Linked DNA regions of Homo sapiens. The protein of the gene in region 4 purifies or fractionates together with the protein of the main gene of each other region. This does not show direct contact. Each region holds a gene or a part of one and is shown on either strand. Other genes may lie near its edges. The genes, in order: TUBGCP4, INTS1, ARFGEF1 and ADGRG2.

The links.
Region 1: the proteins of ADGRG2 (region 4) and TUBGCP4 purify together in Homo sapiens (affinity purification with mass spectrometry; one large-scale study listed by BioGRID and IntAct). This does not show direct contact.
Region 2: the proteins of ADGRG2 (region 4) and INTS1 purify together in Homo sapiens (affinity purification with mass spectrometry; one large-scale study listed by BioGRID and IntAct). This does not show direct contact.
Region 3: the proteins of ADGRG2 (region 4) and ARFGEF1 purify together in Homo sapiens (affinity purification with mass spectrometry; one large-scale study listed by BioGRID and IntAct). This does not show direct contact.

What each region holds. Positions count from the first base shown.
Region 1 is NC_000015.10:43,372,600-43,379,087, reverse strand, and holds part of TUBGCP4 (gamma-tubulin complex component 4), read right to left. Parts: intron 2,991-6,488; coding exon 2,862-2,990; intron 2,634-2,861; exon of another isoform or gene 2,586-2,633; coding exon 2,463-2,585; intron 2,075-2,462; coding exon 2,021-2,074; intron 1,242-2,020; coding exon 1,185-1,241; intron 1-1,184. UniProt on the Homo sapiens protein: Component of the gamma-tubulin ring complex (gTuRC) which mediates microtubule nucleation.
Region 2 is NC_000007.14:1,482,399-1,488,886, forward strand, and holds part of INTS1 (integrator complex subunit 1), read right to left. Parts: intron 5,560-6,488; coding exon 5,362-5,559; intron 5,052-5,361; coding exon 4,922-5,051; intron 4,704-4,921; coding exon 4,524-4,703; intron 4,377-4,523; coding exon 4,227-4,376; intron 3,072-4,226; coding exon 2,892-3,071; intron 2,805-2,891; coding exon 2,700-2,804; intron 1,773-2,699; coding exon 1,605-1,772; intron 1,456-1,604; coding exon 1,344-1,455; coding exon of another isoform or gene 1,303-1,343; intron 310-1,302; coding exon 148-309; intron 1-147. UniProt on the Homo sapiens protein: Component of the integrator complex, a multiprotein complex that terminates RNA polymerase II (Pol II) transcription in the promoter-proximal region of genes.
Region 3 is NC_000008.11:67,333,782-67,337,281, forward strand, and holds part of ARFGEF1 (brefeldin A-inhibited guanine nucleotide-exchange protein 1), read right to left. Parts: intron 1-3,500. UniProt on the Homo sapiens protein: Promotes guanine-nucleotide exchange on ARF1 and ARF3. Promotes the activation of ARF1/ARF3 through replacement of GDP with GTP. Involved in vesicular trafficking.
Region 4 is NC_000023.11:18,986,981-18,992,299, forward strand, and holds the end of ADGRG2 (adhesion G-protein coupled receptor G2 isoform 1 precursor), read right to left. Parts: intron 4,069-5,319; coding exon 3,884-4,068; 3' UTR 2,327-3,883; downstream 1-2,326. UniProt on the Homo sapiens protein: Adhesion G-protein coupled receptor (aGPCR) for steroid hormones, such as dehydroepiandrosterone (DHEA; also named 3beta-hydroxyandrost-5-en-17-one) and androstenedione.

The DNA.
Region 1 (6,488 bases), on a different chromosome or scaffold from region 4:
GAGGAAGATTCAGCCATCTGCAATCCCCCTATTTTCCACTCTCCTTCCTATAGCCAGCGGAAGTTGAAGGCCAACTGAGACGTGCAGCTAGGCCTGGCTCCCTTATGCTGTCCTCATTAACTCTATTTGCCTAGAATGTCTCCTTTTATTTTGGGAGATAGTTTAATCTAGTGGTTAAGAGCACACTCTTTGGAGCCAGATAGAGCTGGGATATAAACCCATTTACTACTATCTGTGTGACACTGGGCACACCCCTTAACCAACTTAGCCCTTTAGTGGATTGTGTGTGATAATGTATTTAAAGCACTTAGCACAGTGCCTAGTACACAGCCAGTGACAGTAAAAGCTGGATGTTGTTATTTGATGAGGACAATCAGCTTTGAAGGGCCAATGAGCACCCACCACTGGCTTTGCTGGCACAGCATGAACATAGCAGAGCACTGTTTCTACACTTACACAGTTAAAAATGATGCAGCAATGTGGCAGATTAACTGGTTTACTAGTTACATTAATGAAAATGAACACCCCTAATAAGCTAAGGCACAAATAAAGAGCTTAAAAAAAATGACGACTTGAGCTAAAGATGTTTAATCCATTTGTCCACTTGGTCCAATTGTGGACCAATTCAATAGGACAGCAGATTCTTCTAATATGAAATCTCAAAGCATTTATTCCTCAGACTTATTAACTCTGCCCAGAAAGACATTCTCCTAACTTCTCAATACACCTGATAAAAACTTGTGATAAGAATAGGCATATTTATTAAACATCTGGCTTTCACTCACTGATCTCAAAATTCTCAGAAAACTGCCAGCACACTAACCATAAACCTATTACCTTCTTCCTAAGAATTAACTTTCTGCTTCACACCCAACAGTTCTAAAACCTTACTGCAGGTTCCTCTCACCTGCAAACATCCACAGCACTTTTTTTCTTACCCCAACAACATTCTTGGGAACATCTATGAACATTTCCTCTACCTTCTGGACCAGGAGGTGTTTAAAGGCAGAGTCATACTTTTGCATTCCTGACACTTAACATGATAACCAAGCAGATATTGTTAAATGAATGAATAAATAAAAACTACTAAAAACTAGGGTCTTCGAAAAATAATGTAAAGCAAAATTAATTAGTAATATTCCCTCAGTGCTTAGCAAAGCAAAAGGAATAAGGAAAGTTCTCACCTTTTGACTTTTAATTTGTTCTACTACAACCATCACAGAGGGAAAAAGAAGCTGGAACTGCAAAGTAGAGAATAATTAGAAGGGTATGTAATCAAATGTAAGGGAAAAAAAATCAACTTGGGAAATGCTTTTGTTTCTAAATAGTTCAACTTAAGATAAAATGGCAATACCACAGAACAGTCAAGATCCAGCATCCTAAGGCAATTTGATGTGGAGGTTCGCTGCAGATAGGAAGAGGATGGCAGAGAGAGGCAGTTTCTTTTTTTTCTTTTTTCTTTTTTTTTTTTTTTTTGAGACAGGGTCTCACTCTGTCACCCAGGCTGGAGTATAGTGGTAGGATCCCAGCTCACTGCAACCTCCACCCCTGGATTCAGAACGTTAGCCTCCCAAGTAGCTGGGACTACAGGTGCACGCCACCACAACCGACTAATTTTTGTATGTTTAGTAGAGACAGGGTTTCACCATTTTGGCCAGGCTGGTCTCCAACACCTGACCTCAAGTGATCCAACCACCTCGGCCTCCCAAAGTGCTGGGATTAGAGGTGTGTACCACCATGCCCAGTCGGGAAGCAGTTTCTATTTCTGAGGCTGGCATACTTGTTAATACTGATGTCCATATAGAGCAGTAACATTAGCGTTAATATCAGACATTAAGTTTTAACTATATTTGGAAATCTTTAAACAGTTTTGATCTAGTAAAACATACAAAATGCACAAAATATAAAATGTTAGGCTCTGAATCCAGAAGAAAAAAAGTTCTCAAAAACAGTACCATAAATTAGATTATTCTAACACTATCAACAGATTGCAAGGCATTTGGTTATTTGGGCAGCATACCTGGTCTAGGAAGTAGTTGACATGTGATATGGAGAGATGGGGATCACCCAGGAACTGCAATAAAAAACTTTGTGATTAGAGCTCCACACAAAATATCTCAAATCTATTTGATCTATGAAAATGAGAAGAGAATCTCATGATGGGCTTAAGTGTTAATTTTAGGCTATCGAGAACTGATAATTTAATCAGGTTATTAATCCTGATTTTCGGGCCATAAAGAAACCAAGCCAGGGCTCTTATAAACTCACTAAAGAGTCTTTGCCATGATCTGTAAGCCACTCTGATCACAGGTTGGGCAATCACTGAGAGAACACTGTACCTTCCAGCCATGCAGGCAACTGCTCACTCTTAACTACCTGATCTTATCAAAGGGCATTTCAGATTCAAGAACATGCCCTAATCTACTGTCCCAGAGGTGTTTCCTATATCTCCTCCTTCTTACCTCTTGTTCCAAATCAAGCAGTGCTTGGCGATAAGGCTGCAAAACAGAATCCAGCCCTGTGCAGAAGGCCCGCAGGTAGATTCCATGTAACCCACCTTGGCCCTGTTGAGATGGATGGTGATCCTGAAATCAAACAAACAGAAGCCAACTTCTCAGCTCAGGCCCTGAAACCTGAGAAAGACATTATCAGGCTTGTTTCTTTTAAAAGTTATACAAACAAACCAATTAGAGGCCTTGCCTTCACTTGAATATTTCTAGTGATGAGAAATCCATAACTTATTTCACATGAATTACCGATAAATTCACTGAAAGCTTGACATAGCTCCTGCCCTCTAGAGGTGAAAGCTTGACATAGCTCCTGCCCTCTAGAGGTGTACACCCACAGAGAACAGGACCCACCTGCTGTTGCACATGGCCCGTGTACTGTTCAATGAACTCAGTGAAGCGAATATAGTCTGTGCCGAGCCGGCAGAGTCGATTCAGGACACTGGTCTCACTGGGGTGGAGGAAAGGGAAGTCCTGCGATACCTGCAGGAAGAGGAACACTGCCGAAAACACCGCCAGTCGCTGCCCCAACTTTCAGGTGCTTCAAACGCTTCATACTACACATTTATCGTTTTCTTTCTCAAGATGTCCACTTAAAGGTGTTAAGTTCTGGATAACAATGTATTTCCAAAGCACTTCAAAGGGGTTCCCTATCCCTGACCCAATTATTTGCTTCTTAAAATAGGTAACACATGCTAAATAATTTAAACAATATAAAATGGTGTACATTAAAAATAAGTCAACCACCCCAGAAGCAGCCGCTATTACCTGCTTCTTAAGCAATCTTCTAGGGATGGTCTCTAAGGATATGGGGGTTTTGACCTGGTTGCAACAAAGTCTCTTTAGCAATATTGCTCAAATGGGGGTCTGCAGACTCCATGGGTTTCTCAGACATATTCTTAGGATTTACAAATTCCCTATAGAAGTTTTCATTGTTTTCATTCCAGTAAAAATCTAAAATTAAGCATACCTATTATCTGTAAATGCACCTTATAACTGGCCATATATATTTAGTGTCCATATTTACATTTGTATTTTTAATTTAAATGAAAGCCAAATGATAGCCTAATATGCTATATACAAAGGTTTCACAGCAGTTCAGGTAGAAAAAAGTAGTGGGAAAATATATTCCTTCAACCAACTTTTTAAAAATACTGTGGTAAAATACGTATAATAAAATCTACCATTTTAGCTATTTTAAGTATATAGTTCAGTGGTATGAAGAACATTCACACTGTTGTGCAACCAGCACCACCATCCATCTCCAGAACTTTTTTGTTTGCCCCAAATGAAACTCCGTATCCAGCCCCTGCCAAACACCACTCTACTGCCTCTGACTTTGACTACTCTAGCTACCTCATATAAGTGGAATCACTCAGGTCGGGTACAATTGCTCACGCCTGTAATCCCAGCATTTCGGGAGGCCGAGGCAGGTGGATCACCTGAGGTCAGGAGTTCAAGACCAGCCTGGCCAACATGATGAAACCCTGTCTCTACTAAAAATACGAAAATTAGCCAGGCGTGGTGGTGGGCGCCTGTAATGCCAGCTACTTGGGAGGCTGAGGCATGAGAACTGCTTAAACCCGGGAGGCGGCGGTTGCAGCGAGCTGAGATTGCACCACTGCCCTCCAGCCTGGGCAACAGAGCGAGACTCTGTCTCAAAAAAAGTGGAATCATTATTTGTCCTTTTGTGACTGGCTTATTTCAGCTCATCCATGTTGTAGCACATGCCAGAATTTCCTTCCTTTTTAAGGCTGAACAATATTCCCTTGTGTGTATATACCACATCTCAATTACCTATTCGTCCCTGCACTGACACTTGCTTCCACCTCTCAGCGATTGTGAATAATGCTTGGTGAACACGGGTGTACAAATATCTGTTGGGTTCCTGCTTTCACTTCTTTTGGGATATACCCTGAAGTAGAACTGCTAGATTGTATGGGAATTTTATATTTAATTTTTTTTTTTAGAGACAAGGTTTCACTCTGTCACCCAGACTGGAATACAGTGGTGGGTTCATAGCTCACTGTAACCTTGAACCCCTAGGTTCAACCAATTCTCCCACCTCAGCCACCAGAGTAGCTAGGACTACAGGCATGTGTCACCATGCCCAGCTAATTAAAAATTTTTTTTTTGTAGAGATGGAGTCTTGCTCTGTTGCGCAGGCTAGCCTCAAACTCCTGGCATTAACTGATCCTCCAGCCTCACCCTCCCAAAGTGCTGAGATCACAAGTGTCAGCCGCTGTGCCTGGCCTTTATTTAATTTTTTGAAGAACTGCCATACCATTTTCCACAATGGCTGTACCATTTTACATTTCCATTACTATATCCCAGGTACTGTGCTAATACTTTGAGATAAAAGAGTGAACAAAATCAGATACAATTACTGCTCCAAAGGAACTTAGCATATTATATGGATGGATATATAATATGGATTATATGTGGATGCCATTTTATATGACAGTAAATGTGGTAACAAATAGGCGAAGAAGAATTTTTCTGTTACCAAGTCCATAGAAAATTGATTAGGAATCCAATTAATGTAGATTTTAATGACACAATGCTAATCACATCTTCAAGTTAGTAACTTAAGAGGTTGCACAACACGGTGCTTAAGAACCTGGTCTCTTGCCGGGCGCAGTGGCTCACGCCTGTAATCCCAGCACTTTGGGAGGCCGAGGTGGGCGGATCACGAGGTCAGGAGATCGAGACCATCCTGGCTAACACGGTGAAACCCCATCTTTACTAAAAAAACTACAAAAAAATTAGCCGGGTGTGGCGGCAGGCGCCTGTAGTCCCAGCTGCTCGGGAGGCTGAGGCAGGAGAATGGCGTGAACCCAGGAGGTGGAGCTTGCAGTGAGCCGAGATTGCACCACTGCACTCCAGCCTGGGCGACAGAGCGAGACTCCATCTCGGAAAAAAAAAAAAAAAAAAAGAACCTGGTCTCTGGAGCCCAACTGCCTGGGTTTGAATCCCTGAGTTGCCTCTTACTTGCTTGAAAGCTTAGGCAAGTTACTATACCTGTCTGTGCCTGTTTTCATACCTATAAACTGAAGAAAATAATTGTGAGGATTAAATAAGTTAATACATGTGTAAAGCACATATCCCAACCACATAGCTAGTGCTCAATACACATAAGCAATTTTATATTATTAACAAGACAGCTCTACCAGTTATCAAGTGATACTACTATTAAAATTGGCATTTGAGCGTTTCTTGTTGGCAGAGTTTTCGAAAAGTTCAATATCTAATTATTCTGAAACAGCAAATAATAACTCGAAGTTACTGATACCATTCTATATAACACAGTTATAGGAACAGGCTGAGAAATCCTGCATTAGAATAATGGTCATTTGAACTTATTGATTTGGTAGTTTTGTTTACTTTTAATTTATAAAAATATTTGATTTTATAGTTGTTTAAGAGTATTATGCTTGAGTTTATACCTAGCTTATGTATATACATATTCAATATAATAAAATAATTTTCATTAACACTTGGCACTCATGACAACTTTTCCCTTTACTCAAATGTAAAAGACACTGCTCTGCAGAAATTATGTAATATTTGCCATCTTTGTCTTCTTTTCTTCCATCAATACCTAAACACCTGCTATGTGGCAGAAACTGTGCTAGGTGCTCTGGGTAGATGAATGAAGAAGACCACTGGTCTTCGCTCCCAGGGGCAATCTATGCGGGAGAAAGGCTAAAAACAGGTAACAACAATACATTATGAATTGTGACAAATCCTACAAGGGAAATAAACAAGTTGATGGAGAATAATGGCATCAGGGGAGGATGCTTAAAGATGTGCTCAGAGAAAGTTTTTCTGACAAAGTGACTTTAAAGCTGAGACCTTGAGGATGAAATGGTAGAAAATACATGATTGAGAATTTTTCATAAGAAAGAAAGGAAGGGAAAAGATGAATTACTTGTGGTTGTCTCCCCCACCCCCTCCCTAGCTATCTTTCCTGTACTGTGT
Region 2 (6,488 bases), on a different chromosome or scaffold from region 4:
GACATATGGTCTGCAGGATCCCCTGAGGCTACCCGGCCAGTCTTCTCCTCTGCCACAGCCGGAGGCTGCCCAGGCCCACAAGGAGCAGGCAAGGGGCCCGGGACCCCTGAGTCAGCAGCCCCTGCCCAAGCCCAGCCTGGACCGTACCGGCGTCCACCAGGCGGAGCACCTCAGAACGGATCATGCGCAGCTTCAGCCAGTCAGGAAGCAGCAGCGCCTCCTCCGATGTGTCCACCAGGAAGGCGGTGGGCAGTGGCTTCTCCTCCGGAAACCAGATGTCCAGCAGCGCCTGGAACTCGCTGTCGTCGGCTTCAGGAAGGACAACGGGTGAGCAGCCTTCAGACCCACCGGGGCCCAGCCCCAAGCACCGCTGGTGCCAAGGCTAGAGGCACCTCCTCTCCCGAGAAGGAAACTGAGACTTGGGAGGAGCACGGGGCTCCTGTGCTAGGTGAGCACTTGCTATGTGCGGATGCTTTGCGTAGGTGCACGCATTTGATCCTCACAGATGCTGCAGGAAGGCAAGCAGCATCACTGCCATTTTGTCGTGGCCAAGGGGACATGTGCGTGTCCCCATCCAGCCCCTGCCCTCGGGGCTTTGCTTGGCTGGACCAGGTCCCATCCAGCTCTCTGGCTCCGCAAAGCCACTGGGAAACCCCACAGGCCCAGGCCCACACAGGGCCAGCTTCTCCGGCTGCCCTTCCCAAGGGCGACGCCTGTGACTGTGTCTGCCTCCCAACAGGGGTCACCACCCACCCACGTCCACCCGAACCCCAGCATGAGGGTTCCGCCCCCTTCCCCCACTGACAGACACAACGGGGTGAACGTGGGAGCAGTTCATGGTGTCAGCCAGGAGTAAAGGGGAAGGCTGCGGCCGCAGAGGGCACGGCTGGGTAGGCGCTGGGTTCCAGACACTGCGCTGGCCAGAGCGTCCTCAGGGTCACTCGCCTGGGCCCCGGGGAGAGGACCCACTTGCCTGGCAGCCTCATGTCGCACCTCCACACGGTGAAATCCCGAGTTTGCCGCCTCCCAGGCACCGCAGGCCTACACGGTTAGGCTGGGGCAGTGAGGACTCTGACCCCAGGCTGTACCAGGCCCTCCAGCTCAGGGCTCTACAGGCTGGGAGGTCCCACCACGTGGGGATCTCCCACACGTCCACCAAGTGCTCAGAGACACGCGGGACGGACTGCAGCCTCCTCTTTAGGAGAGAAGCCAGGACACAGGGTTGAAGGGCTGGGGGGCTTCCCGCCCAGAAGCAAGGCAAGGATGCGGAAGCCGCTGGGTGTGGTCAGGGCTGTGGCCCACCTGGCACGAAGCTGCCCCTCCCGGGGCCTGTGGCGGCTCACCTCGAGGCGGGCCCAGCGTCAGCAGGATCACCATGGCATGGACCACGAGGATGTGCATGGTGGCTGTCTCCCCGCTGCTCCAGCGTAGGAAGACCTGGTCCTGAGACTCCGACTGTGGGAAAAGAGGTGGAGTCAGGCCGTAAGGTTCAGGGACCCTGAGCCAGCGCCGAGGGTACCCAGCTGGCACCGAGCGTGCCGTGCAGCCTCACCCAGCCGTAGACCTCCTCGCCCTCACCCGGCCGTAGACCTCCTCGCCCTCACCCAGCTGTAGACCTCCTCGCCCTCCTTGCTCTGCCGCATGCGCCTCACGTAGCGTGAGAAGATGGACAACAGAGCGCTCAGCACGGCGTCCGACGCGGCACTCGGGGAGAGCTTCGAGAAGAGGTGGGACATGATGGTGGAGCGCTCCACGACCAGCCGGGCCACGTCCTGGTGTGTGGACAGGGGGGCGTCAGAGGCTCCGAGACAGCTCTGCTCTCCGGCCAGCTGGGGTGACCTCGTCGCAGGCACGCTCTCACTGGGATCTTAAGCAGGGCCCGCGGCACCGCAGACCCTCACTCAGCCGCAGGCCGCCAGGGAAGACGACCAGAGCTGGGTCGGACTCTCCAGGGGGGAGGGAGGACACGACTCTCACAGCCAGGGACAATGACCAGGCCCTGAAAGCGGACGCTGCTGCCCTCTGCCCGGCAGCCACCATCTGTTCACCTATCGCTCATTCCCTGAGGACTCGGGCCACCAACTTTCACTAGGTCACAGCGCAGGTTGTGGACAAGAGAACCGTGATGCAAAGTGAGAAGCAGCCCAGCAGAGAAGGACAGCACCCAGGAGAGAAGATGGGAGTCAGCGCCACACATGTGAGCTAGAGATGCTGAGGACAGCGGGCAGGTGCCCAGCGACCTGGGCCCACAGCCCAAACCCTCCTGGCGTCGGGGAGAAGGCTGATGGCTCAGATTCCACCCTGCTGTGAACAAGGCACCCTCACCCCCGTGGCTTCGCATCCTCAGGGTCTGGGGAGAAAGGCTCCAGGGAGTGAGTGGTGACTAAGGAAGGGACACAGGTGGCCACGGGGTCATAGAAGCCCCAGCACAGCAGCCGTGACGGCCCTCCCACCCTCAATGCCTCCCTGTGGCCCAAGAAGCCGCCAGCCCAGGGCACTGCACCACTGGCCCCTTACCCTCCCCAGGGCAGGGTCTCTGTGCTGACCCCGTCCCCTCCCCAGGGCCACACTGCCGGCTGGCCCCGTCCCCTCCCCAGGGCCACACTGCCGGCTGGCCCCGTCCCCTCCCCAGGGCCACACTGCCGGCTGGCCCCGTCCCCTCCCCAGGGCCACACTGCTGGCTGACCCTGCTGCCTCACCAGGGCCAGGTCGCTGTGCTGGGCCTGCTCCTCCACAGGCGTGTGCTGGGACAAGTAGATCAGGTAGGCGCTGATGGTCTGGGGATCAGTCTCCATGTGGATTGCCTGGAGGGGAGGGTGGTCTGAGCGGCAACAGGGCAGGGCTGCGGCCCTCTCATCTTTCCCTGCCGCGGCCCCGGTCAGCGCCCTCACCTGCTGCAGGGCCAGGGCTGTGGTGCTCCTGACGCTGTCGAACAGAGGCAGGCGAGGCAGGTCCCGCAGCAGCCACTGATAGCCCTGCAGCACATCTGTGTCCCCCACATCCTCCTCCATGGGGGGCTCCTTCTCCTCCCCGTCCCGCAGGCTGCCCTCCGAAAGCACCAGCGACAAACCCTGTGGCAGACACTCATGAGCTGGGCCGGCTTTCGGCAGTGCAGGCAGGGTCTCACCCTGGCCCCGGGAGCACACGCATGGTGCCCTCAGAGCCCCGAGGAGAATGTGGCGCTTGCTTCCCACGGGAGAGGCCGCAGGTAAAAGGGAAAAACGAGACTGAGCTCTTTCTGTTAAATGCTTCTGTTCAAGTTCCTGAAGCCACTCTGGACCCTCCCGTCACCAGCAAGAAAGGAACACCAGGCAGGCGGCAGGGTCCACCTTCACGTTTCACTAGCGCATCCTTCCTACGCAGGGAAGGAACTTAAAATACAGTCAGAGTGCACTGAACACTCATTTGATTTTTACTTTTCCTTTTTAAGACAGGGTCTCATTCTGTTGCCTAGGCTGGAGTGCAGTGGTGTGATCACAGCTCACTACAGCCTCAAGTGATTCTCCCATCTCAGCCTCCCAAGTGGCTTGGACCACAGGTGCATGCTGCCACACCCAGCTCATTTTTCTCATCTTTTATTTTTTGTAGAGATGGGTATCATTATGTTGCCCAGGCTGGTCTCAAACTCCTGGGCTCAAGTGATCCTCCTGCCTCAGCTTCCCAAGTAGCTGGGAACACAGGCACACACTACCACACCTGGCTAATTTTTTCAGTTTTTGTAGAGAGAGGATCTTCCTGTGTTGCCCAGGCTGGTCTCAAACTCCTGGACTCAAGTGATGCTCCCACCTCGGCCTCCCAAAGTGCTGGGATGACAAGAGCAAGCCACTGCCCCAGGCCTACTCATTTTACTTCTTTATTTTTCATTTATTTATTTTTTTTTTTTTGAGATGGAGTTTCACTTGTTGCCCAGGCTGGAGTACAGTGGCACAATCTTGGCTCACCTCAACCTCCGCCTCCTAGGTACAAGCGAGTCTCCTGCCTCAGCCTCCAGAGTACCTGGGATTACAGGCCCCCTCCACCACGCCCAGCTAATTTTTTCTATTTTTAATAGAGACGGGATTTCACCATGTTGGCCAGGCTGGTCTCCAACTCCTGACCTCAGGTAATCTGCCTGCCTTGGCCTCCCAAAGTGCTGGGATGACAGGCGTGAGCCACCGTGCCCGGTCCCCAGCCTACTCATTTTAAACATGAAGAGCGTGCGCAGAAAGACCCGCCCACCACCTCACCTTCATGGCCAGCACGCGGGAGGCCACCTGGGAGGAGCCGAGGCGCCGCAAGAAGTAGTCCAGCACCTCACACGTGGTCTGCTCATCAGCCTTCGGGCCCAGTAGCAGGTCCTGCAGGCGGCCCAGCAGCTGCCGCTGCTTCTGTTGCCTCTGCAGGGAGGAAGGGGCTCTCAGGGGTGCAGGTGACAGGCCAGGCGGGTAGGACGTGGGGTGCGCGGCTGGTGGGCTCAGGCATGGGTTGCCCTGACAGGGGTGCGGGGTGAGAGGCGGGGGGGCTGAGGGGTGGGCGGCCCTGACCTGCCGCTTCTTGGCCTTCTGCTCCTTGCTCTCGCCCTCGTCGTCCTCCTCCCCGGAAGCAGCATCGTCCACAGCATCGTGCAGCAGGAACTCGCACAGACACTGCACGGGCAGCACGTCCAGGGAGCCCTCGCTGGACTGTACCAGGTCCGCCAGCCAGGGCATGGACTGCGAGGAGGCCTGGGCAGGCGACAGTGGCGCCCGCTCAGCACCTTCCAGGCCCAACACCTGCCGCCAGCCCCCCGGGTGACCGCGGAGCCGGAAAGGGCGACACGCAGCAGCCAGCTCATGGGCCCCGCATCCAGGTGTGTCCTGCCCTCTTCTGGCCACCAAGGCCTCCGGAAGGTTCCGGGCCTCCCAAGACCACCATCTCTACCTCCTGGAGCCTCGGCACTCACCTGCCGCTGGATGATGTGGAGGAGAAAGTCAGGGTTTCGGCTGCGGCACAAGAGGTGCCCGAGGCGGAGGGACTGGTTGAGGCTTTTCACTTGATCCAGGATGTGAGGGGGAGGCCTCCGGGGGGGCCCCCTGAGGGCCACAGGGGACACGGTGCGTCAGCACGCCCTGAGCGGATCACCCCCAGAACCCCTCCTCCTCCCATCCCTGCTTCGAGGGGCAGCCGACAGCCCGAGACGGGCAACCCATCCTGACCTGGGATGTCCCCAAGGCCTGGCCCCACAGCAGTAAGCCAGGGACGCGGGGACGGGGCTCCACAGGCCTTTCAGGTTCTGCCGCAGTGCGGTCGGCTCCGCCTGCTCCTTCAGCCTCTGTCCCACCCACACCAACCACCCACAGGTCCCGACGGCAGGCGCAGGGCGGGGCTGTGTGGGCTGCGTACTGGGGGTCCAGGCTGGTGAGCTGCGACAGGAGGAGGCTGCTGCTCTCAGTGATGGTCTGCTTGGTGGACGCGGCCGCCAGGTGCCCCTCGAAGGCCAGGATCTCCTGCTTCTCCCGCTGGGCGGTCTGCAGCTCACGGTTCAGCATCTCCGTCCGGGTCTCCTCATCCGTCAGGGTGCACGGTGGGTAGGAGTAGTTGCTAGGGCCAGACGGGGGAGCGTGTCACCCTGCCCCCCATGAAGGGCTCACTCCCAGTGGGCCACGCTCAGGGTCAAGGAGGGTAAAACCCCTACGGCTGCTGCTGCCTCTGCTGCACAGCAGTCAGGAGCACAGGGCGCCCGGTAGCATCCATGGGGCTGTCAGAGCTGAGACGAGAAGCCGCAGCGCTGCCCAGAGGCGCGGTCCAGCCACTGCCTCGTCCTCCGCAGGCAGCACGCCTGCCCTCACCAGAGCCAAGGCCAGCGGTGTCAGAACCTGGCCTCCTCCCAGGCCACCTCCCCTTCCACGCCACCTACGCTGGGAGCATAGCCTAGTTTGACAGCCATGTAGGCTCTGCCCGCCCCATCCAGGGACAGACCTGCAGGGCAGGGACTCTCTTGCCTACAGAGGCACACGTGGCTTCGGCGTGTTCCAAAACCCAGCTCCCCATGGCCGCTCTAATCTGAGCTCTGTCCCCAAGGCCCCAAAGTCAGTCTGCTCCTTCAGAGGTGGGGGGAAGCAGCTGTGCCTCCCACCTCAGGACACACACGCACCCACTCCCCACAACACACAGGCAGACACACACCCAGTCCCCACAAAACCATGGGCAGACACATGCCCAGTCCTCACAGTGCAACGGCCCCAAACGTACCCGATCCCAACGCCACACACACACACCTGGTCCCCACAATACCAGGGCCACACACACTCCCCGTCCCTATGATGCCACAGCCTCGGGCGCCCCTTCACCTTGGCCACTGCCCTTGGTGTGGTGCCCTCACTGGTGAGATAGGATGCTGGCCCCAGAGCTCATCGGCCCTCGCCCACACTGTGTGGGCACCAATGCTGCCAGGCACAGCTGGTGGTGAGCCCTGGGCGTCTCCTAGGCAGGCTGTGCCGACTCTCGTCCCACCTGCACTGAACTGTCCT
Region 3 (3,500 bases), on a different chromosome or scaffold from region 4:
ATCTCACGTGATGGGTCACAGTCAAAACACAGTCAAAATTTTGTTTCATGCACAAAATTAACAACAGTGCATAAGACCAGGTGCAGTGGCTCATGCCTGTAATCCCAGCACTTTGGGAGGCCAAGGTCAGCGGATCACCTGAGGTCAGAGTTTGAAACCAGCCTGGCCAACATGGCAAAACCCCATCTCTACTAAAAATACAAAATTAGCTGAGCATGGTGGCGCATGCCTGTAATCCCAGCTACTTGGGAGGCTGAGACAGGAGAATCACTTGAACCTGGGAAGCGGAAGTTACAGTGAGCTGAGATCGCACCACTGCACTCCAGCCTGAGCAACAATAGCTAAACTCCGTCTCAAAAAAAAAAAAAAAAAAAAAGAATAGTGCATAAAATTACCTTTGGATTGTGTATAAGGTGGATGTGAAACATTAGTAAATTTTGTGTTTAGACTTCAATCTCATCCCCAAGATATTTCATTATGTATATGCAAATATTCCAAAGTCCAAAAAAAAAAAAAAAAACAAAATTGAAAACATTTCTGATCCCAAGCATTTCTGATAAAGGATATTTAATCTGTACTTCAAAAAGTTAACAGTGTTTCAATGAAGTAACACTTCATCATAACAACTAGGATGGCTAAAAATAAAAAGGCAGTAACAAATATTGGTGAGAATTTGAAGAAACGGGAAGCCTCATACACTGCTGGTGGGTATGTAGGCTGGAAAAGAATTTAGCAGTTTCTTAAAAAGTTAAACATAAATTTATCAAGTGGCCCACCAATTCCCTTCCCAGTTTGTCTACCTAGGACAAATAACAGTTTACGTCCACACAAAGACTTATACACAAATATTCATGGCAGTATTATTCATTCAACCCAAATATCCATCAACTGGTAAATGGATAAACAAAATATAGGATATCTAAACAATGGAATGCTATTCATCAATAAAAGGAAATGAAGTGTGGATACAAACTTCATGAATGAACCTCAAAAACATACTGAAAGAAACCAGACACTAACGACCACCTGTGTATAACTGCATTTCATGAAATGTCCAGAAAAGGCAACTCTAAAGACAGAAAATAGATTAGTGAATGCCAGAAGCTAGGGATGACAACAAGGGCACTACAGATTTTATTGAGGTAATAGAAATGTTCTAAAACTGGATTTATGCTGATGGCTGCATAATTCAGTAAATTTACCAAAAATCATTACACTCAAAAAAAGTAAATACTATAGTATGTAAATCATTTATCAGAAAGTTGTTTTTCAAAAAGTTAACAGTAGTTATTTATCTTCAGCTAAGAGTATCACGGTAAATTTTTTTTTTTTTTTTTTTTTTGAGACAGAGTCTCACTCTGTCACCCAGGCTGGAGTGCAGTGGCGCAATCTCGGCTCACTGCAAGCTCCGCCTCCCGGGCTCACACCATTCTCCTGCCTCAGCCTCCCAAGTAGCTAGGACTACAGGCGCCCGCCACTACGACTGGCTAATTTTTTGTATTTTTAGTAGAGACGGGGTTTCACTGTGTTAGCCAGGATGGTCTCGATCTCCTCACCTCATGATCTGCCCGCCTCAGCCTCCCAAAGTGCTGGGATCACAGGCGCCAGCCACCACGCCGGGCCCCGTATCACAGTAAATTTTATTGTTGTAGTTACACTTTTGAAAATGATTTGAAGGATTCGTTTATAAAAAATATCAAATTACCAAACTTACTGGAATTATAAAAGCATACAGACTGAGTAAAAGCCATAGAGATTCTCTTCTATATAAAGTGCTTGGCCTTCAAAATATGTACTTTGACTGCTTATATTTTTATTATTTCTTAGCAAAGTTCTGACAGATGAGGATTGTTAAACAGCTGATTAAATGAAGTCTCAATGTACACATTTTTGTTAAGAAAAATTAATAGCCTCACATGGCGTTTCCTAAAGACACGCCAGTGGTAATATGAAATATTTTAAAGATTTTCTTTTTTTTTTTTTGAGACGGACTCTCGCACTGTCTCTCGGGCTGGAGTGCAGTAGCACAATCTTGGCTCACTGCAACCTCCGCCTTCCAGGTTCAAGCGATTCTCCTGCCTCAGCCTCCTAAATAGCTGGGATTACAGGCGCCCACTGCCACCACGCCCGGCTAACTTTTTGTATTTTTAGTAGAGACGGAGTTTCACTATGCTGGCCAGGCTGGTCTCGAACGCCTGACCTCATGATCCACCTGCCTCGGCCTCCCGAAGTGCTGGGATTACAGGCGTGAGCCACCGCGCCCGGCCATTTTAAAGATTTTCAAAGACTTTTCTGAATGAAAAGATAACATAGGTTATATAAACAAATTTAGTTACATCAAGTCTAAGTCTAAGCAAAACAAAATATCAAAAGCAGAACACAAAACTTTTTAAATATTCTTAAATACTTGAGCCCAGACCTTTTAAGAAGCTTTTCAAGAGCCTCTACTTATAACACACTAAAGCCTCAGAATAACTGCTTTCTAGATTCATGAAACAATCAGAGATGAGCCAAAGACAGGATCTGATTGTGTAAACATATGTACAGTAGACTCTGTAAGTGGAAACTTGAATAAAGAAATCAAAATGGGTCTGAAAAGTTAGGATAAAAGGGAACTTGCATTCATTTCCTAAGGCTGCCTTAATAAATTACCATAAATTTGGTGGCTTAAAACAACAGAAATTTCCTCTCATAGTTCTGGTGGCCCAAAATCTAAAATCAAGGTCACAGCAGAGCTATGCTACATCCAAAGGGAAGAATCCCTCCTTGCCTCTTCCTACTTCTGGTGGCTTCTGGCATTCCATAGCATGTGGCAGCAGTAACTGATCTCGTCTCCATTTTCACATGGACTTTTTCCTTTGTATGTGACTGTGTCCCTTCCTCTTCCTTAAAAGGACACCATTCACTGGATTTAGGGCCCACCTAAAGGCTCTAAGTTGAGGATCTCAACTTCACCTTGAGATCTTTCACTACATCCACAAAGTTCCTATTCCAGGAAAAGAACCAGACAAGTGAAAGGCTCATTTCTTTGATAAAAAAACCTCCCTGCAAAAAACCTGACAAGGCAGGCCGGGCGCGGTGGCTCACGCCTGTAATCCCAGCACCTTGGGAGGCCAAGGCAGGAGGATCACAAGGTCAGGAGATCGAGACCATCCTGGCTAACACGGTGAAACCCCATCTCTAATAAAAATACAAAAAAAATCAGCCGGGCGCGGTAGCGCTACACGAGATTAGCTACTCGAGAGGCTGAGGCAGGAGAATGGCGTGAACTCGGGAGGCGGAGCTTGCAGTGAGCCAGGATCGCGCCACTGCACTCCAGCCTGTGTGACAGAGCGTGACGCCGTCTCAAAAAAAAAAAAAAAAAAAAAAACAGACAAAACAAATTGAAATTATTTTGTGTTATTCTCAGTAGAAAATATCCTATTATATCATCTGAAAATTCTATCATTAAAACATTCTAAAATACATATAAAAGGCAGGATGAAAATGTTTTACTGTCT
Region 4 (5,319 bases):
CAGAAGGTCAATTCTGAATGAATTTGCTGAAAATGACCAATTCACCAAATTTAGTTATTTCTATGATAATTTAGTTGACTGGAAATCATTTTTTCGTTACATTTTAAAGAATGTTGAATTTGTCTCTGCTCCAGCTTCCTGTAGCTCGTTTGAGGCTAAGAGATAAAGAGAGGAAACACCAGGGAACATAAGATTTCTTCACAGTGAGGAATATATTTATTAAATATATTTAAAAGAATATATTCTAAAAGAACATATATTCCATTTTTGCCTGCTCTGACTTCTTGATGCTGTACCTGGAGACTAACATGAAAAGAAAGCAGTATATACTGGCCAGGCGCAGTGGCTCACACCTGTAATCCCAGCACTTTGGAAGGCTGAGGCTGGTGGATCACTTGAGGTCAGGAGTTCAAGACCAGCCTGGCCAATATGGTGAAACCCTATCTCTACAAAAAATACAAAAATTAGCTGGGCATGGTGGCAGGTGCCTGTAATCTCAGCTACTCGAGAGGCTGAGGCAGGAGAATTGCTTGAACCCAGGAAGTGGAGAGTGCAGTGAGCCAAGATTGCACCATTGCACTCCAGCCTGGGTGATAGAGCGAGACTCTGTCTCAAAAAAAAAAAAAAAAAAAGAAAAAAAAAGTATACACTGATAAGAATTCTTCAAATTGAAGATTATGTTCTTATGTCTACCCAGTCTTTCCTTTTTCCTTTCCTTCGGACTCCAACTAGAACAGCAAGGAGCAGAGACAAAGACAAACTAGTCCTTAAAATGCTGTTATGGAGACAAAATGACACCAAACAAGTCCACTCTGTGAATTGGTTATGCTGTAAATTAATCTTTGTCTAAATGGCCTTTGACAAACCGACTGACTCCTAGCTGACCTCCTTAGACATACCCAGTATCCCAAGTGAAGCTGTTTCATCGTTTTTTGTTTGTTTGTTTTAAAGACAGGAGGTCTTTCTGTGTTGCCCAGGATGGACTCCAATTTCCTGGCTCAAGCGATCCTCCTGCCTCCGCCTCCCAAGTAGCTGGGACTACAGGTGCTTGCCTGGCTTGCTTCACCATTTTCAGTAAGAACGATCATGATGCTGCTCACTGAAGTCAGCAGACTTCCTTTGTGGGGTTAATGACTGCAGTGTGTTTTGAGGAAAAACAAAACAAAACAAAAAAAAACTACTCCAATATTTTGAGGAAATACTTCTTTAAATACTGGCCTCTGCCCTGACACTCCTTGCCTCCTAATATTGGCACCACCTCTGTTTCCTTACAATAGAGTCTCAGAACATGGGATCAATCTTAGACCCAAAGGAGGATGCTTCTCAGAAACACTCTCTGTCCTGCCGTACGTCTGTCTAAAGTAAGAAAAATAGATGAGAGAATTCTGCTTAAGGACCACAGCACAGACACAGTAGGAAAAATAAGGGGGTGGGACCTAAAGGATACTGGACATTGTGCATCCTTTTATGTATATTTTGGTTATATAATCTGTTTTGGGGGATTGATTTCTGAGGTCTCACCCCTCTCCCAATCTAGAGGATCTCACATCTTCCTTTGAATTTAGTACTCGGCATCTTTGTGGGAGCTGAGGACCTTGAAGAAGAGATTGCTCAGAGACCTCTTACCAGGGTGAGGCCAGCTTCCCGTATTTGGGGATCCCACATGCTAACCAGCAATGCAGAAATCCCAAATCCTGTTCTCACTTTTCAGTAGTCCTACCTGTTTGACACTGAGGAAGCAGATACTTGGATGAGATCTGAATTGGGTCTTGTACATTGCCTACAGGCCAAAGGCAATGTGTTGAAGAGATAATCTTGAAAGAGTAATGGGAAAGGAGACCTCAGAAACTGATCTCATGAGGCAGAACAACCCTTGCTCTAATTTCATAGTCACAGGGTACCTGCTGATTTCCAAAAGATGTTACTGTTATGTTTGTCTTCTTAAGAGATGGTGTCTCGCTCTGTCGCCTAAGCTGGAGTGCAATGGCACAATCGTGGTTCACTGCAGCCCCAAACTTCCAGGCTCAAGCAGTCCTCCATCCTCAGCCTCCTGAGTAGCTAGGAGTACAGGCACACAACACTATGACTAACTAATTTTTAATTTTTTGTAGAGACAGGGGTCTCCCTGTGCTGCCCGGGCTGGTCTCCAACTCCTGCACTCAAGCAATCCACCTGCGTCAGCCTCCCAAAGTGCTGGGATTACAGGTGTGAGCCACCATGCCCAGCCAATTGTGTTTGTCTTAATCAGCATGTCCTACACCACTTCCATGCCAGGCCACCAGGGAAAGAGACTGCAGATGTTTTTTCTTTGTGAAAATTACCAAACTTAAAGATCTTAACTGCAAATTTATTTCATTGATTTTAACATTTTTGATTTTAACATATAAATACAAGAAAATTAAATAAATCAGAAAAGAAATATTGCAAAGACAAGTCAGCACTCACAGAAATGTGTATTATTACTATGGTTAGTCTGAGATCCAACATTCACTTGAAATATATGCAAGAGAACCTTAGTGAAAGACTTAACTAAAAGGGGTTTGAAATGTTCCTAATAAGGATGTACTTGAGGCACTGCTCAAGCAGATGTAGGTAGGAAGCAAGATAGACCCTGTATATAACTAGGAGCAATCAAGGCTCGATACATGTAGCAACAATAGCAGTGTAGGACAGTTCCCTGTTCCCAATAGCTACTCCCCTTGTCACTGTGCATTCTTCAAGACACATTTAAAAAACAATTATAGCTCTGGCTGGGCCAGAGTGTACCAGTCATAACAATCAACAATGTACCATGCAGTTGCCTTTTAAAGAACGGCAATATGATTTTTTTCCATATATATGTACCTTTTTAAGAGAAGGAATCCTAGTCTACTCTCCTGTTCCTAAAGGCTCTGGGGATTTGAGAAGCGGCAGTGTATGTACCTCATCTACGTTCACAATTTTCCTGACACATGGTCTGGATGACAGTTCATCCCTCTCTGTGGCCAAGGTATAAAGCTAAACATCTTGGTGCAGATTCTATAATCTGACTACTGGGGATGCGGTCAGGGGATGGGTATTCATATTGGATGCTGTGTTTGGCTGTACAGGTCGTGCACCCAAGAGGGTGAGTGGGGCTAAAATATGGTCTCTCCACTCTGTTTGTCAAACCATGAGCCCATAGGGCTGTGTCTGCCCAGTGGGGGCATCTTTTCCTAACTTGCTCAAAGGCACTGTATGAGCTAACTGTGGCACTGTCTGCTTACATTTTCTCAGTCTGGCTGGGATCATTATTTCTTGATTTCACTGAGGTTTCTGTATTTCACATCCTATATCATCTCCAAAAGGAGCTTTAGGATTTGCGGAACGAGCAAGGATTTTCTGAATTATCACGTGAGACAAAACAACCATGATTCTACAAAGGAATACATTTACACAGTAGAAAATAAATACAAAAAAATGTAGAAGTAAGATTTTTGACACATGGGTCACTAGAATTTAGCTTATATACAACAAAGGCATGCACAACTAAACTCACCAACAGGCTGAAGTCAACAGTTGCTTTATATGATGTTATCAAAGATAACTTAGCCTCTTTAAAAGGTAGCTGAAAGTTCACTACCTTTTTTTGTTTTCTTTATAGGAGTCATTCTTAGTGTATTGTTTAAAACCAACCTTCTTATAAAATGAAAGATAAGAAACCAAATCAGAAATGTCTAAAAACCATGGTGTAATGTCTTGGTTTCTTCTTGTAATAATAATCATCGCCCTTAATTAGCTTATGCTTCTCCAGATGTTGCCGAGAATAAAATGAGTTGATTTTCATACATCTCACATTGTGTAAAAGGTAAAATTGGACATTTCACACTGTCAAGCATCATGCTTTGATTTTAGAAGAAAGGAATCACATTTGCTCAATAAAGTGTAAGCTTCCCCGCTTTGAAGTCCTTCTGAGAGCCATACGGCCTTTCCCATTGCAGGAATCTTCCTTCTCGTTAAACATGTGCTGTTTTCCAGTGAAATCGTGAAGGCACACATCTCCATTCTGAACACTAAAAGAGACCCCATTCCTCTCTGTAGAAGCATTTCCTGTATAAGGAAACACAAAGCGGGTGGCATGAAGTATCCACAGAAAGCATTAAAAAGCAAACAAACTTAGACATTGCTTTATTCTTAAAGATGTATTTGTAAAATATGTTTTTAAAAACATTTGTGATATATGTTCATATTTTATTTATTTTTCATTACTTCCCTAAGGCCACTCAAAGTAAGCATACCAAAGTGGAGATTGCTTCAGAAACCAGTTCTCTATGGCAGTTTTTTTTTTGTTTGGTTTTTAATGAAACAGTCAAAATCTGAAGCAAGGTAATATATTAATAAAAGGCCCACTTCCTAACTCTGGTTGGATATGTTTTGACTTCAAGTAGCAGCATATGTATAATATAAGCTAAGGTAATACTTTGGTCTCCCAAAAGGTTAATGTTAACAGAGATCCCCATATGTACCCTTAGGAAGTTCTTGGTTCCCTAGGTTCCTATAAAATGAAACTTTGTACCAGAGAAACCAGAGCAACCAGCTACAACAGTCATGGCAAGAAGAAATCATCTCTCTTGTAGATTAAACCAGCTCCTCTGACTAAATCAGGACAGGACAAATTCCCAAGAGGAAACTACCAATTCCAACTTCAGAGTCCAGGCCAGGGAGCAGCTGGGCACTCAAGGGTAACTGTTGGTTTGGACGTGGGCCTTCCCCACCCCAAGCAGGCCCTGAGTTATAGGGGAGCACAGGTGCTGGCCTCCTCTAGTTACTTGGCACCATCCTTCTGATCATTAGACCATTGGGAGACTATACACAAAGCTGAATAATAAGCCCATTTGATAGTTCATGACATGATTATGATAACAATGATCATAACAGTACTGGGACACTTTATTATCTCATTTAGAGCCCTGCAGGGTGGGTACTACTGTTATCCCCATTTTGCAGATGAGGAAACGAAGGTTTCAGAAATTAAGTGCTCTCCCCAAGGTCACACAGCTCAGAAGTAATGGAGTTGACGTGTGATGTTGCTTCCAAACTGTGATCCTTGTGGTCCTGGGTACCAAATGAGATGGCTGCTGGTACCCCACCCTCTAAGGCAGCTCAGAACTGAACTGTGTAATATTCATGCAAACTAGGTGATGAATATGGTTAACGTAGCTCCATCTGTGACACAGATCAAATAGGGCATGTGACTGTCTGAGGCAGCTGTTTGGATTTAGGCATTTCGGCTTGAGGACATTTTGGTGCAAGAACAATTTGGTCTGGCATAATAAATCATTAAACTTCTAGCTTTTTTTG